Homo sapiens: one gene and its partner. The protein of the gene in region 1 interacts with the protein of each later gene in a pairwise test. Each region holds a gene or a part of one and is shown in the gene's direction. Other genes may lie near its edges.

Region 1 (7,034 bases):
TGGAATTTGGTAATACTTTTTAACACTTTAAACTATTTGGATTATCTTATAAACTGATCTGTGGGCCGTGTGTATTTTTAACTATGTCTTTTAAAGGTACAAAATGTGACTGACTTTAGAATGAAAATTATTTTCCCTGGCAGAGTGAGTAGAACAGAGCGTAGTGGAAGATACGGTTCCATCATAGACAGGGATGACCGTGATGAGCGTGAATCCCGAAGCAGGCGGAGGGACTCAGATTACAAAAGATCTAGTGATGATCGGAGGGGTGATAGATATGATGACTACCGAGACTATGACAGTCCAGAGGTGAGTGACCAGCGGCTGTATAACCCCCCAAAACACTCTGAGCCTTATAGTAATAGAAATAACAGCCAGGCAGCCAGGTCCAGTGGCCCCTTCCCATAATCCTATCACTTTGGGAGGCCAAGGCGGCCAGATCACTTGAGGTCAGGAGTTTAAGACCAGTCTGGCCAACATAGTAAAACCCGTCTCTACTAAAAATACAAAAATTAGCTGAGTGGGGTGGTGGGCGCCTGTAATCCCAGCTACTTGGGAGACTGAGGTAAGAGAATCACTTGAAACCTGGGAGGCGGAGGTTGCAGTGAGCTGAGATTGTATCAGTGCTCTCCAGCATGGGTGACAAAGCAAGACTCCATCTCAAAAAAAAAAAAAAAAGAAAAGAAATAATGGCCAGGGTTTACATAGGGATCACCATGTACTTTTGAGCACTTGACTTCATGAATTCATTTAGGTCTCAGTACAACCTGATAAGGTAGGTGTTATTCCCATTTTAAAGATGAAACAATGGGGTTATGATAACATATTAGTTCTGTGTTTTGAAATGAATGATAAATATAAGTTGTTGGCCAGGCACAGTGGCTCACACCTGTAATCCCAACAATTTGGGAGGCCGAGGCAGGAGGATCCCTTGAGCCCAGGAGTTAGAGGCCAGCCTGGGCACCATAGGGAGACCCTGTCTTTAAAATAATAATAATGAAAAATAATAAATATAAGTTGTTGTTTTGGTCATCTTGATATATCTTTTTTTTTTTTTTTTTTTTTTTTTTTTGAGACAGCTTTTTAGTCTTGTCACCCAGGCTGGAGTGCAGTGGTGCGACCTCAGCTACTCAGGAGGCTGAGGTACGAGAATTGCTTGAGCCTGGGAGGCAGTGGTTGCAGTGAGCTGAGATCATGCCATTGCACTCCAGCATGGACGACAGAGGGAGACTCTGTCTCAAAAAAAAAAAAAACCAGAAGGCCGGCACGGTGGCTTACGCCTGTAATCCCAGCACTTTGGGAGGCCGAGGCGGGCGGATCATGAGGTCAGAAGATTGAGACCATCCTGGCTAACATGGTGAAACCCTGTCTCTACTAAAAATACAAAAAATTAGCTGGGCGTGGTGGCAAGTGCCTATAGTCCCAACTACTCGGGAGGCTGAAGGAGGAGAATTGCTTGAACCCAGGAGGCAGAGGTTGCAGTGAGCAGAGATCATCGCACCACTGCACTCCAGTCTGGGCAATAAGAGTGAAACTGTCTCAAAAAAAAAAAAAAAGAAAACACAGCAGGCTGGGTGTGCCTATAATCCCAGCACTTTGGGAGGCCATAGCAGGAGGGTCATTTGAGGCCAGGAGTTCAGACCAGCCTGGGTAACATAGTGAGACCCCTGTCTCAAAAAAAAAAAATTGCAGTGAACATTACCATGGAGTGCTTGTGTAATCTCTGTACACTTCCTGCTAAGGATAATTTCTAGGAGTGGAGGGTCTGTTTCAAAGAGTACAGGGTGATGTTAATTGTGATTTTGTTTATTGTAACTCAGAGAGAGCGTGAAAGAAGGAACAGTGACCGATCCGAAGATGGCTACCATTCAGATGGTGACTATGGTGAGCACGACTATAGGCATGACATCAGTGACGAGAGGGAGAGCAAGACCATCATGCTGCGCGGCCTTCCCATCACCATCACAGAGAGCGATGTAAGGGGAAATGACAGTTATAACCAGCAGTCAGTAGGCACAATGAACTTTGAGCTTCTACCATTATTTTCTCATGCTATTGTTTTATCTTAAGCCAATAGAGGTTGAGTATCCCTTATCCAAAATGCTTGGGACCAGAACTGTTTTGATATTTTTTTTTAATATTTGCATTTACATAAGTTTAAACATTTGCATTTACATAAGTCTAAACATGAAATTCATTTGTATTTTGTATATGTCTTATACATGCCAAAGGTAATTTTATACAACACTTTAAATAATTTTTTTTTTTTTTTTTTAAGACAGAGTCTTGCTCTGTCACCCAGGCTGGAGTGCAGTGGTACAACCTCGGCTCACTGCAAGCTCTGCCTCCCGGGTTCACGCCATTCTCCTGCCTCAGCCTCCTGAGTAGCTGGGACTACAGGCGCCCGCCACCGCACCCGGCTAACTTTTTTCGTATTTTTAGTAGAGACGGGGTTTCACTGTGGTCTCCATCTCCTGCCACCCGCCTCGGCCTCCCAAAGTGCTGGGATTACAGGCGTGAGCCACCTTGCCCGGCCAACACTTTAAATAATTTTATACACAAAACAATGTGTGCTTTGTTTTTTTGTTTGTGATATTTTTGTTTCTGTTTTTTACAGGCAGGGTCTCATTGTCACCCAGTCTGGAGTATAGCAATGCAATCATAGCTCACTGCAGCCTCAAACTCCTGGGCTCAAGTGATCTTTTTACTTCAGTAGCTGGCAGGTGCATGCCACCACACCCAGCTAATTTATTTTTTGTAGAGCCAGGCTGGGCTAAGTATGTTGCCTGGACTAAAAGGTTTGACTGCCCTCTTGTCTGTGACCTTTCAAATAAGGTCAGGGGTGGAATTTTCCACTTGTTGTGTCATGTTAGTGCTCAGAAAATTTCAGATTTTGGAGCATTTCAAATTTTTGGATTAGGGTTGCTCAACCTGTATCTATCTCAGCTAGTGAAATATTTTTCTGTCTTTAGGGAAAAGTTCACTGAACTAGGTTCAGAAGTAAGTTACCATTTTGGCCAGGCGCGGTGGCTCATGCCTGTAATCCCAGGCACTTTGGGAGGTCGAGGCGGGTGGATCACTTGAGGTCAGGAATTTGAGACCAGCCTGGCCAACATGGTGAAACCCTGTCTCTACTAAAAATACAAGAATTAGCTAGGTGTGGTGGTGCATACCTGTAGTCCCAGCTACTTGGGGAGGTGCTGAGACAGGAGAATGGCTTGAACCTGGGAGGCGGAGTTTACAATGAGCCAAGATCACGCCATTGCACTCCAGCCTGGGTGACAGAACAAGACCCTGTCTCAAAAACAAAAAGAAGTAAATTACCATATTTAGGCTTTGAAGCTCAATGTATGAGTTTTCTAAATGTCTTTAACCACAGGGAGCAGGTCTTCTGTCTTCATTAGCTCCTAGAAGATAATCAATATATTTTTATTGAATTAGTTACTTATTAGATGAGGATGATTGGTAAATACCTAATTTTCTTTATAATCTGGCCACCCTTTTATTTGTTGAAAATTGAACTACCCATTTGAAACCTCAGAAAAGCTTGTTAAAAAGGACGGCTCATTCAGACTGGCCAATTAGAGTCTTAGTGTACTTGGCACTGCCTGATTTCCAGCAGCATCTCTGGTCCTCACCCTTCCTTCCAGCCACACCCTACTTTCCACATCCTGGACTTTGGACATGTCCATTGCTCTACTGTTGTGCCTTTTTCTGCTTGGAGACGCCTGTATGTAAAGCCTGATCTATCGGGCAGAGCTTCTTCTTCGTTATTCTCTTCCTAAGGCACTGTATTCATGACTTTTGTGTAGCACCTTTACTGTAGCCATCAACACACATGTCTCATCTCTACCACAAGATCTCTGAAAATAGGCCTCTGTGTGAACTAGTCACCTCTGTGTCCCCAACCCTTGAACACAGTATGTTACTCAGCCAGTGCTCTTGGTAAAAATGAATGTGAGGTTTTAAAACAGCAGTGTGCCAGTATTTGTTTTCTTGGAGTAATCAAAGTAATATTCTGACTAATGTTTAGTTGAATTTTGGATAAAGCTCAAAATAAGCATTGGATTCCCGTAGCTTTGGGTTTCTAAACCCTGGAAGTAATGAATGTGACAAATGTGAGACAGGATATTAGAGTTAATAGTGGGTAATCATTCCATTATTTGTGATCCACTGCACATCTGCTACACTGTACATGTTAGATGCTACAGTGACACAGAGCTATGGATCTTGCCTCAAAAAAGCTTATGGATGAGTAGCTAAGGTCAGCAGATAATGGTGACAATGCAGAATAGAAAGGGGTCAGAGGCCGAGTATGGTAACTCATGCCTGTAATCCCAGCACTTCGGGAGGCCAAGGTGAAAAGAGTGCTTGAGCCCAGGAGTTCAAGTCCAACCTGGACAACATGGTAAGACGCATCTCTCCAAAAAAAAAAAAAAATAGCCAGTCTTAATGGCGCTTGTCTGTGGTCCCAGTTACTTGGGAGACTGAGGCAGGAAGATCACTTGAGCCTAGGAGGTCAAGGGTACAGTGAGTTGTGTTCACGCCACTGCACTCCAGCCTGAGCGACAGAGCAAGACCCTGTCTCAAAAAGAGGGTCATGTCGGAAAAGGTCCTATTGAAAGAGGTCTGCCTAAGAGCTCTTGAAGGTTATTTAAAGGAAATTGTTACTAGTGGAGGGTAAGGAATCTTCTATTTTTATTTTTGTGAGACAGGGCCTTACTCTGTCGCATAGGCTGGAGTGCAATCGCGTGATTGTGGCTCACAGCAGCCTCCAACTTTTGGGGCTCAGGCAATCCACCAGCCTCAGCCTCCCAAGTAGCTGGGATTACAGGCATGTGTCACCACTCCGAGCTAATTTTTTTTTTTATCGTTTGTTTTTTTTTTTGTAGAGACAAGGTCTCTCTTTATTGCCTAGACTGGTCTTGAACTCTTGTCTTCAATCAATCCTCCCGCCTGGGTCTCCCAAAGTGCTAGGATTATAGGCGTGGAAAACTAAGGGAATGGTGTGGTAGATGGGCCCTTCAGGCGGAGGGGTATCACATGAGCAGGGAATAGAAAGGTACTGAATCTAGATAAGGCCTAGCAATCGGCTTGATTTGGCTGGAGTCAGAGGCTTTTGGCAGGAGAGGGATGAGTGGCAAAGTGCTATTGTGGCTAGGGGCTAGAGTTCTCAAAAGTCTAGCTAAGCCTAAAAGAATATTACTGAGGGTTGGCCAGGTGCGGTGGCTCACGCCTGTAATCCCAGCACTTTAGGATTCTGAGGCAGGCGGATCACAAGGTCAGGAGATCGAGACCATCCTGGCTAGCACGGTGAAACCCTGTCTCTACTAAAACTACAAAAAAATTAGCCAGCCGTGGTGGCGGGCGCCTGTAGTCCCAGTTACTCAGGAGGCTGAGGCAGGAGAATGGCATGAATCTGAGAGGCGGAGCTTGCAGTGAGCCGAGATCGTGCCATTGCACTCCAGCCTGGGCGACAGAGCAAGACTGTCTCAAAAAAAAAAAAAAAGAAACTGCTACAAGTATTGATTTGAGTGTTAGAAATTTTAATGAGTGGTTGAATTCACAGGTGTGATACCTGAGGATAATGAGGATTGGCTGTGTGTAGTCTTGCAGCCGTTGCACCTAGTTATGGAAAGTAGAGGCCAGTGAGAATCTTGTTTCCACAAATTTCACCCTGTTTTTTTTTTCATGGTAGTATTCATGCCTGATATTATTGATGAAGAGACTAGTATATTTTTGTGGCCTTTTGGAAAAAGGAGTTGGTCTGACATTGGAACAAGCCTACCAGCCAGAATACTTTATTCTAGCCCCAATTAATGTTTGATTTATTAGGAGCCTAAGAATGTGATGAACTTTGAAAATTTTTACCAATAATTTAACTGTAAGAAAAGTATGATCCATTAAAAATGTTTACCTGGCCTGGTGCGGTGGCTCACGCCTGTAATCCCAGCACTTTGGGAGGCCAAGGTGGGTGGATTACCTGAGCCCAAGAGATGGAGACCAGCCTGGGCAACATGGTGAAACCCCTCTCTACTAAAATATAAAATATTAGCTGGGTGTGGCGACATGCGCCTGTAGTCCCAGCTACTCTTGAGGCTGAGGCAGAATTGCTTGAACCCAGGAGGCGGAGGTTGCAGTGAGCCGAGATCATGCCATTGCTCTCCAGCCTGGGCAACAGAGTGAGACTCCATCTCAAAAAAATTTAAAAAAAAGTTTATCATCAGGCTCTTCATTTTTTGGCTGTTGATTTTTTTCCTTATTTTGAGAGTAGGCCTCAAAGAGCAGGAAGGCTATTCTTGATTAGGCGTACTTCAGGGCACAGTGACGCATCCACTGCCTCTTTTAAATCTCATCTGAGTCCTTATTTTTATTTTTTTATTTTTTTAAAGATAGGGTTGCACTTTGTCACCCAGGCTGGAGTGCAGTGGTGCAATAGCCCATTGTAACCTCGAACTCCTGGGCTTAAACAGTCCTCCCACCTCAGCCTCCCAGGTAACTAGGACTACAGGTGTATACCATCATGCTTGGGTAATTTTTATTTTATTTTATTATTTTTTTTTGAGACGGAGTCTCACTCTTGCCCAGGCTGGAGTGCAGTGGCGCGATCTCGGCTCACTGCAACCTCCGCCTCCCGGGGTCAAGCGATTCTCTTGCCTCAGCCTCCCAAGTAGCTAGGACTACAGGCACGTGCCACCACGTCTGGCTGATTTTTTGTATTTTTAGTAGAGACGGGATTTCACTGTGTTAGCCAGGATGGTCTCCATCTCTTGACCTCGTGATCCACCTGCCTTGGCCCCCCAAAGTGCTGGAATTACAGGCGTGAGCCACTATGCGAGGCCTAATTTTTAAAATTTTTGTATACAGATGGGGTCTTACTGTGTTCCCCAGGCTGGTCTCACACTCCTGTGCTCAAGCGCTCATCTTGCCTCATCTTCCCAAAGCGCTAGGATTATAGGCTTGAGCCACTGTACTATCCTGCAGAACAAAGGACAGGGAGATTAGACTAAAGGATGGAGGCTTGAGACATCATA
Region 2 (4,451 bases), on another chromosome or scaffold:
CCCTCCTTCCCTCTGAGGGCTTGACCTTCACTGACCTCCAGGGCAAGAACAACCAAGAGTTGCTCCCAAGAGGGCTTCCCTCCTCCTCGTTCTGTGTGGCCTCAGAAGTGAGGGAATCTCAGTGCTCTGTGCAGGCATGTGCTTATTCTGAGCTCTGTTTGAAATTAAACATGAGGTGTACTAAAGATTTAAATCGAGCAAACACCTCTGTGATTTCCAATTGGATTCTGAGGCGCTTACAGAAATATGAAGTCCATTTTGATCTACTCTTAGAAACAAAAGCTGCCCATGATTTCACCACAGAAAGTCTGCCTCATTTGCAGTTTAGCGGACTCACAGAGGTGACCCTAGATCTCTGTCTCGCCTTTGTTTGGTTTATTTCCACATTGCATTTGCGTTTCCCGCCTGGCTAGTTCTTGATCATTGAGGAAGGCAGAGAGAAACGAGATTCTCTGCTCTGGGCCAGGCATTCTCTGTACACGTTCCTGGTTCCAGCCTGCCTCCTTCCCTAGAGGATCACCGTGTCCAGCCCTGAAGCTGGAGCGAGTGTTCCTCACTTAGAGATGAGGCGATGAGGCGGCGAGCTGGGAGAGGGCTGAGCAGCTGGTGAGGGCAGAGTTGGGACTCAAACCCAGGCCCGACCACCACCCAGCTCTCCTTCCACCGCACTGGTCCACCTCCTGACCGTACGTGGGGAGACCCACGCAAAGGCCCAGAGAGGAGAAGGCCAGCAGTGGGCAGAACAGAGTGGGCCGCAGGTTTTGGCAAGCCTGGAGGGGAATAGGTCAGAAAGGTAGCCCGGCTGGGCTGAGAGACTGAGGACAGGGGGTGTTAGGGTGCTGACATTCTGGCAAGGGGGCGGGGGTCTGTGGAAGACAACCCCAGGCTGGGGTGGCTTCTCTCAAACCCGGGCATGCACAGTGCTGGCCGTATCGGTCCGAGCCCTCGGCTGCCAGGGAGAGAAGCTGAGCTCCCACCAAAGCATAAAATCCAGGCCAGCGAGGGGCAGCCAGACCACGGGAAGACAGGAGGAACCCGGACCTGGCTCTCGTGCAGGAAGCAGGCAGTGCACAGCTCCGCCGCCACAGAGACAGCCTCCTCTCATGACCCCAGACTCAGCCCGGGCCGTGGTGGGAACGATGGTTGGCCCGGTTTGGAGATGGGGGATCTGGCCCTGTGGTGAGTGCACCCAGAGCAGGTGTCTCTCCGGAGCAGTTGAGTAGAACAGCTGGCGTCACCTCTTCATGTTGACGAGGGGAGATGAGTGGCCCAGGCAGTTCCTAGAGCGGGGGAGATGGAGTGGGCCGTATCCCACCCAGCAGGAGCGCTTGCTTCTGAAGCTCCCGTGCGTCTGTGACAGAGGCTTGAACCCCCGGCTTGTTCTCTCACGTCTGTTGCCGTAAATCTGTCTCCATCGCCTGGCACATAGGAGAGGCTTGGCAAATATTTTTGGTTCACTGAAGAAAGGCAGCCCTCACTCCTGCTGCTCAGACAGCACCCCCTGAACGTGAGTTACTGCCTCCTTGAGCACTTTCGCAGGAGAGAAGACCAGAGAGCTGCCTTCAAAGATGCCAGAGCCATGTTTATTTAAGCGGCGCTGCTCCAGAGAGAACTGGCCATTTGCAGTCTCCACCCCAGTGTGGCTCACGATGCCACCTCTCCTTGCCAGCTCTCACCGAGGCCCCCGGTGACCTCCTAGGGGGTACATCCAGCCAGGTTCCCCCTCAGCAATGGCCAGGGGCCACCGTGGGCCACACTGCACTTCCCAAATGCTCCCGGCACTGGCACAGATGCACACCCTCTTGGCCATCCCCACCTGTGCTCCGCCACTCTTAGTCAGCCATTCCTCTCGGCTTCCGGGAGTCCCCTCCTTCTCTAAGGATCTCACCCCCATCCGTGTCTCTGCTGTCTCCTAACTACCGATAGCAAGGGCACTAGTGCCCCTGTTTGCCGGGGACAGGCCCTGTCTGGGGCCCTGGTGTGGCATCATTGTTAACAGAGCTTCTTTTCACTCTGAAGTGTTCAGTTAGGACAGTCACTTGCACAGTCCCCTCACTGGTGACACAGACACCCCATACCTGTGTGTTTCCCCTGCATAGCTCAGCAGCAGCTCAGGCTCAGCACGGCCAAGGCTGAATGCAGATGCCCTCCCTCCAAAACCTGGCCTCCTCCAGCTGTTCCTTCCTGGCGAGGCCACCTCCAACTGTGTAACACAGAAGCCTGGGTGCCATCCCTGGGGCTCCCCTCACCCCCACCTCCCACCCGTCCCCGGGCCCCTGGACAGACCACTGGCCTTGTTCTCTTCATTTCCCTGGCCCAGGTTACAAAGTCTCCTTCCTGATTATGTGCATTAACTAACCTCGCAGGTGCTCTGCCCACCTGCCTACGCCAGACTCTTCCAGATCCTTCTCCACCCCAGCAGGCAGAGTTGTCATTGTGAAATGCAAATCAGGTTCCATCTCTCCTCTCCTTTCCTACCTCCCACCATCCCCGTCACCCTCCCTGTCACACACAGCCCCCTCCGTGGCCTCTCAAGCCTGCTGTGGCCTGACCCTCCCCTCTGCTTTTCCAGGCCCTCCTGGCACTGTCCTCCCTCAGTCTGGGACTCCCTGTCCTCCCTCCTTCCTGCGTGGCACATGCTCCTCCCTCTTCTTGAAACGCTCTCCCCTCCCTGCCTCCCAGGCAATGCCCACTCTGCCTCCAAAGTTCATCCATCGTCCTCTCCTCAGGAAGATTTCCCTGGTGGCTTGACTAGGTCACAGTCCCCCTTTATTTGCCGTCTTCTCACTGGGGCCTCTCCTTCCTGGTAGCTTCTAAACAAGGCAGTTTCATGTGTGTATCTCCACTAGACTAGACGCTCTCTGAGGGCAGGGACCCTGCTTCGCTTCTGGCCCGAGGTGGCTGCAGGGTCTGCAAGATCATCAGGGCCCCCTCCAATGTGACACTTGCAGAGGGGACCCCTGGCCTGGGGCCACGCTGGTTACTTGGGTACACTCCTTGCCCAGGGTTCCACAGCCCCTTAAAGGCAGGGTCTTTCTGGCCACGCCTGGCCCTGGTCTGGCCTCCCCAAGGAGCCCTGCCGCTGGGGGTGCTGTGTGGGAACAGAGCACAGGCCCTCCCTCCCAGAGCCCACGAGATCTCACTTTCTCCAAGCCCAGCTCCCCAAGGACTCAGACCCCAGTTGCCCTGCACTGAACGCTGGCTTGCCCTAGCTCACTCGGACCCCACCCTGCACTGGGAAGGAGGGTCCCTGTCCCCGTTTGACGGGTGACGACACTGAGGCCCAGAGAGCTGAAGGGGCTGGCCGAGGGGACGGGCTTGGGCGCTTCCATTCTCACACTGCTGCCGTGACACCTAATCCATCCGGGGAAGTTCCCTTTAAACCCAAAAGGGGACGGTGAAGCCACACGCGGCCGCCCTTCTCAGGAGCCCACTTCCACCTCTCGCAGGCTAGACAGCGTTCCCCAAGTCCCCCCTTGAGCTGGGTGGGCTGCCCAGCTGTGAACACAAGGACACCTCCGATTTCGTCCTGTGAATGTTGATATTAGTGGTCCCTTCCTTCAGGGGCTGTGGGGATCTCAAAAGATAAGGCAGGTCTGGAGTCCTGCGCGGTACCTGCCGCATGGCAGGCTCTTTACGGACAGCGCAGGGACGCACTTTGATGCTGAAAATGAGTCTCTGGGACAGATGGATCCCAGTCTGGGTCCTCGCAAGCGCTGTGCACCCCGTCGCCGCGAGATGGCGGTGTTGCGCCCCTCCAGCCTCCTCTGCTCTGCGCTTGGGCGCTGAATGTTAAAATTCCTAACAGGTGAATCGCTTGAATCCGGGAGGCGGAGGTTGCAGTTGGCCGAGATGGCGCCACTCACTCCAGCCTGGCGACAGAGCGAGACTACGTCTCAAAAAAAAATAAAAATAAAAAAATAAAATCCTAACAGGTAGCATACCTGCACTCGGAACTTGCACAGCCGCTCCCCACTCTCTCACAGGGATTAGGTAACGATACTCAGAGCTAGAGCAGGCATTTGGGACTGCCCAAACCAGCTGCTCTTCCTGCTTTCTGAAGCTTCCCCGGGGGAATCTTCTGGCTCCCAGTCCGAGCCTCCTGTGGTCAGCTCCTCCTTGCCCAGTCGTCGTTTGCAGTACAGCAGGGGCGTGGTCATTTGCAAATGTCCCAGAGGGCCCCCTCCAGTCGCTTCACATCGGTCTCAAGTCGGGCTGACTGAGGGCATGACTTTCTGTCTCAGGCATGGAGCCCAGATCACAGATCGAAACTCCGCTAAATCTAGAGGCCACGGGTCCCAAACACCAGTCATTTGCTGAGCACTGTCGCAATTTTTTTATATCCCTCCCATCAATACAAGCTGGATTTTTTTATTAAGTAGAAGCTAAAAGTAAAAAGTAATATAAAAACAAAACAGCATTAAACTTCAGTTAGATACATTTGCTTTCTC

Evidence for each region.
Region 2: the proteins of RBM5 (region 1) and MLYCD interact in binary tests that used the Homo sapiens proteins (3 or more experiments, as listed by UniProt).

What each region holds. Positions count from the first base shown.
Region 1 is NC_000003.12:50,091,900-50,098,933, forward strand, and holds part of RBM5 (RNA-binding protein 5), read left to right. Parts: intron 1-143; coding exon 144-309; intron 310-1,820; coding exon 1,821-1,976; intron 1,977-7,034. UniProt on the Homo sapiens protein: Component of the spliceosome A complex. Binds to ssRNA containing the consensus sequence 5'-AGGUAA-3'. Regulates alternative splicing of a number of mRNAs.
Region 2 is NC_000016.10:83,923,100-83,927,550, forward strand, and holds the end of MLYCD (malonyl-CoA decarboxylase, mitochondrial), read left to right. Parts: 3' UTR 1-3,932; downstream 3,933-4,451. UniProt on the Homo sapiens protein: Catalyzes the conversion of malonyl-CoA to acetyl-CoA.